Regions from separate parts of the Homo sapiens genome. Here region 2 is linked to region 1. A link means that fine-mapping ties the variant in region 1 to the expression of a gene that starts in the linked region. Tissue or cell type: whole blood. Region 1 holds a variant in brackets; the other region holds the start of a gene. All regions are shown on one strand. Distances are between the middles of the regions.

The links. PIP is the estimated chance that this variant, and not a neighbour inherited with it, causes the effect.
Region 2: it holds the start of ACSL5, and the variant in region 1 is fine-mapped to the expression of ACSL5 in whole blood (TOPMed, PIP above 0.99).

Annotation. Positions count from the first base shown.
Region 1 is chr10:112,431,975-112,434,743 of GRCh38, reverse strand. ZDHHC6 (zDHHC palmitoyltransferase 6) reads left to right here. Exons shown (of 11, transcript NM_022494.3): 7 at 280-447; 8 at 1,463-1,504; 9 at 2,223-2,368; 10 at 2,458-2,504. Among named protein-coding and RNA genes, the nearest start is that of ZDHHC6, 14 kb to the left of the region's middle. The variant T/A (reference allele first, on the strand shown) is at 1,371.
Region 2 is chr10:112,373,072-112,375,840 of GRCh38, reverse strand. It overlaps ACSL5 (acyl-CoA synthetase long chain family member 5), which reads right to left and starts at 1,725. Exons shown (of 21, transcript NM_203379.2): 1 at 1,572-1,725. RefSeq lists an enhancer at 1-24.

The sequences.
Region 1 (2,769 bases):
AAAGTTAGCTAACTTTTAATAAGCCTTTATGAGTGCTTATTCCTAAAGAAACCCTGTCAGATATTTCCTAGGTAATCACATACAAGGCTGGTGTTCTATATCAAGTTCTTCCTATATTGTGATGAAGTTGTCTATTGCTTCCATGTACACTAATATTACAGCAAGGAGGAAGTATTTTTATGAATGTTAGAAACTTGAGAAATAAGTGTTCTCAATAACATATTACTGCAGGCCACTTAGACAGAGGCACCTGCCATCTTATATCTTTGTTACCCACAGGCTAAAGATCGAATTCAGTATTATCAACTAGATGAAGTCTTTGTTTTTCCATATGATATGGGAAGTAGATGGAGGAACTTTAAACAGGTATTTACGTGGTCAGGGGTCCCTGAAGGAGATGGACTTGAGTGGCCAGTAAGAGAAGGCTGTCACCAATACAGCTTAACAGTGAGTATTTTTGTTCAAATAGCCCTTCCTTTTTGCCTCGCCTTCTTTCCCTTAACTCCCCCTCAACTCAAGTGACATTTTGTAGTAAAATAAGTAATATGAATGTTTTCACTATGTCAAAATGAATCTAATAATTCTAAAGCACTCCTTGTATCATGTATCTCCCTTTATTTCAATATCTCCTTAATTCTCTATACCTGTGAGATAAAGTCCTGATCCCTTAACATAGTTTTATGAAATCTGGCCAAAAATTACCTTCCAACTTACAGTAGCATATGAATTCCTTATACATTCCTGTCACCCAACTTTGCCCACAATTTTTTCCATCTTATATGACCTCCACTCTATCTAAAATTATTAAGACTCGTTCCAGTCTTACCTCTTCCATAAAGTCTAACCTACCCCCATAGACTCATCTGAATGTGACATTTAATCACATACTACTCTATGGTAGCTCATGAAGTCTCATATTTTTATTTAATTCTGCTATCTTATATCTGTAACTTCATAAGATTCTAGGACAGAGATCATGAGTTATCTTTATTTCTCCTATTATATCTAATATAGTGCTATTTAATAGTAGCTATGTCAAATTAAGTTATGATGACTTTTATTCATTCAACTTCATTATTAAATGTTCTTCATTATTCATTTGTAGTTTGTCTGCCATGTCTCTACAGAATCAGTGAATCTCAGTGTTTTCACCTGAGAAGCTTCATGAGGGCGGAGAATATACTCCCTGATCCCTGGGCCACAGTAAGCACTCTAGGAATATACACAGATGAGGACATTAGAGAGTGAATAGCGAGAAGAAAACCTCACTCTCAGCCTCTGGTTCTTAGCATAGGGCCTTTTTTTCCATGCTAAAACAACCTGTGGCCTTTAAATTATCAGCAACTTGAAATGCTGGAAAATTGGGGTTT[T/A]GCCATATCACTCTGACAGTTGATGAGGAAAGGCGATTTTTCAACATTGAGACAAGAGACTTCATTTTTTTCTTTTTATTTCTTCCAAACAGATAGAACAGTTGAAACAAAAAGCAGATAAGAGAGTCAGAAGTGTAAGTACTTCTTTTGCAGTGGTAATTTTTTTTTCTTTTGTTAGGCTCTGTACTTCCATACAGTTTTTTTAATTGACTGACTAGAAACCAATTGTTGGCCTTTATTAAATAGTATTCCTTAATACATTTGTTGAAATTTGATGCAGTTAACTTTTGTTTTTATTTAAATAATTGGGACTAGAGGTTGGGAGGAATTTAGTCCATTTATATTGCCAACATAGGAAAATAATTATCCTCAATACAGCTCCTTAATGTGAAACCTATCCTTACAACTATGTTGTTGGATATGATGGCCACCAGCCACATGTGGCTGTTTTATTTAAATTTGTTAAAATTAAATCAATTTAAAAATTCAGTTTCTTGTTTGCATTCACTACATTGTAAGTGCTCACTCAGTAGCTACATGTGTCAAGTGCTGCTGCATTGGATACTACACATACAGAACATTTCCATCATGGCAGAATGTTCTTAGCCCTGCTCTAACTCTAATTCTTAGCTATGGGCTTGAAAAGAGGAGTAAGAAAAGCCTTGAGAACTAGAAACATTAGTTGCCTCCCAGGGAACTAGGTGGATGGGGAACTGGGAGGTTCCCCTAGAAGGGGAACTAGAAGGCTTGTCACTGGATATTTTGGATCTTGCTTTAAAATTTGAAATTCAGACTTAAAACTCAGATATCATGGGTGAATATTTAAAGGTTTCTTCTGATCACTGACGACAGGTTCGCTATAAAGTAATAGAAGATTATAGTGGTGCCTGCTGCCCTCTGAATAAAGGAATCAAAACCTTCTTCACAAGTCCCTGCACCGAAGAGCCTCGAATACAGCTGCAAAAAGGGGAATTCATTTTAGCCACAAGAGGTTTACGGTAAGTAATAGGAAGTACTGCATTTCTTCTTCAAGGACAAAATTAATATCTAGCCTAAAAAATTAATTTTCATCTTTTAAATATTTCAGATACTGGTTATATGGAGACAAAATTCTTGATGATTCCTTTATAGAAGGTATGGAAATGGAAGGGCATGTTTAAAGGACAAGACTATTAGCAATAATTCCAAATTTTACAAGAATAACTTTTATAAACCAATCATGCCTAATGCATTAGGGGAACTGCATAGAAGGGTATATCACTAAGCAACAAAAGGAACTTCCTTATATATTTCTCTATAGCTCTTGTATTTTTCAGGTCTTTTTAATGATAGCTAACATTTGAGCTCATAACTATGCGAAAAGTACTTGTATAAGTGCTACCCTTAAGGTGTAGAAGTC
Region 2 (2,769 bases), 59 kb after region 1:
CCTGCCTTGGTCTCTGAAGAAGTTCTGGCAAAGCCAAGAAAATAAGCAAGTCAGGAACGACAGGGCTGTGAGTCGTTCAATTGGCATGGTTTCTTTCCCTCTGATACAGTCACACCTCAAAACTTAACTTAAAAATCGATTCTTTCGCCTTGGTCACCCCCAGTATTACCAGGACCTGTATTAGTCTCATTTTTGATCCGCCTAAGGCTGTGGCTACAGGGGGGCCCTGGAGCTACCATTCTCAGATTAGGAAGCCGAAATGACAAATTTTCCTGCCCCTTCCCCACCTCACAGATACCTCAGAATGAAGCAGCACTTTCTCCAGCCTCGATCCCCCACGAAGGCTCACAGGAAGTTCAGCATGATCCTGGCTCTTTGCTGGAGCTAGATTAGGGTTTGTTCTTTCTACAGAGCAGTTCTTAAAAGCTTCCTACTAAGGAAGCCAGGGTGAGCTGTGCCACAGTCTCAGAGAACACAAGAGCTGAGCCCTTGGCCTCTGGGGAGCCGCCTTTGGACATGGAAGAAAGATGAAGGGCTGGGAGACGAAGTGGGGCCTGTGGCATTCCATCCTCTGGCTCATCTCACGGCTGGAGGAGCACTTGTCATTTGCTTAGTTTCAGGAACTCAGCTCCCCAAGAGGCAACTTCCTCTAGAGGAGAGCAGAGGATGGCAGAGTGGGTGTCGAATCTCAGCCACACTAATACCTCTGAGCCCTTCACCGGGTGCTGTCTTCCTTCACCAAAGGGCTCAGGGCCAGGGGAAGATGAGGTTTTATTTCTTTTTTTTTTATTGACCTCCTCCAGTAAAAATGCTCAAGTTCAGGAAGGTTGAGTCATTCTAAAGGCCCATCAGAGTTGTATTCCTATCAATCCTCTGTGCACATGAGTGACACCCTCAGGATTTCAGGGGGTAACTGAAAGCTTTGGCAACCCACAACAATTCTGCATTATTGGGCAGGCTGTGGAAACTGACCAATCAAGTCTCAAATTCTAGCCACACCACCTTGGAGCTATGTAGCTTAGGCCATGCTGTTTAACAGCCTGGAGACGCACTATGCCTCTGTGAAATGGGAAGGATACCACCTGCTTTATAGGATGAGATACACCAATGAAGTAACATACATAATCTACCCAGAACAGTCCCCAGCACCTAATCGAATATCTGCTGATTCCCTTCCTCTCTGTCTGCCAAATGGGACTCTCTGCCCTCAGCAGCTGACGCACGATCCTTCTAACTACACTGAGACAGAAATTTCTTAATGGAAGATGAAGGAGACCCACATTCTGGCTTGGTGTGCTTTAGTACACTTACCAAAATCAGTGTTCCCTTCCAATTCCATCCCCTGCTAGCATTTGGATAGCTCATATATCTCCACCCCTTTTCCAACTGATTTTTTTCTTTGCCTCCCACACAAGTCAGCTGAGATTACTATTCAACTAAATGTAATTTCATGTTATTAAAGAGCCTTAGGTTGAGCATAACAAATCCCACTTTCTTTCCCCACACCAATCCCCTCCCTACTATCTCACAGATATATTCAATATAGTGCAGGTAGTATCATTGCAGCTTACCTTGGAAGAAGACTCTCCCTTCCTGGGTCCAGGAAGTGCTCCCCTCACAGCTGGCTGTATTGATTCAGCACCACATTCAGGCACTTCTACTCTTTCCACAGCTCCTAGGACTGACTGGGACACACCCGAAGCTACTGTGTACTGTCCTGAGAGTGGCCAACACACTCCCCTGGAACCTTTGAATCTGTCACAACAGAAGTTCAAAGGTAGAAGTTACCTGTTCAAACACTTGTAGTAACCTCTGACAGTAAGAAAAGCAGTGTTGGGCAAAAGATTAAAACAAGAGATTGTTATGCAATGGGCTTAAGCGGGAAAAAAAAAAAAGACGGCCCTTAGTTCAGAAAGCTAACGTTTACCAAGAGAAACCTTCGATAAAGCTCTACCTCAGGGGAAGGAGAAGGGGTAGACAGGGCTTTGCATCTGCTTTGGGGGCACAATCCTTGAGACTGTGATAGGAAGAGGAAGGTCTAGATTACTAGAAGAAAAAGGGCTCCTTGAGATCAGAGTGAGAGAAAAATGAGAAGCCACTTTAATTGGCTCAAGCTATAACTTTAGGATTCAGACTAAGCAGAGGTGTGCATTTGCAGACCAGCTATCTTCTAGAAGGGACCACTGCCCCCTTCAGAATTAGAACGTCTCCAAGACAACCAAATGAGCCAAATCAGTCTAGAGTCTAGGCTGAGAGACAAGCCTAGGACGGTTGTTTTTAGGATTCGGAATCACGAACACAGTCTGCAGCACACATAGTTTAGCAAGGCGCTAGAATAGGAAGCATTGCTTCCTGGCTAACACGGTGAAACCCCGTCTCTACTGAATACACAAAAAATTAGCCGGGCGTGGTGGTGGGCCCCTGTAGTCCCAGCTACTTGGGAGGCTGAGGCAGGAGAATGGTGTGAACCCGGGAGGTGGAGCTTGCAGTGAGCCAAGATCGCGCCACTGCACTCCAGCCTGGGCGACACAGCGAGACTCTGTCTCAAAAAAAAAAAAAAAAAAAGAAGCATTGCTACTGCGTCATGGCTCAGCCATCCTACTCTCTCCTTTTTTTTTTTTTTTTTTTTTTTTGAGACGGAGTCTCACCGCAACCTCCACTTCCTGAGTTCAAGCAATTCTCCTGCCTCAGCCTCTGGAGTGGCTGGGATTACAGGCATGCACCACAATGCCTGGCTAATTTTTTTTTTTTTTTTTGTATTTTTAGCAG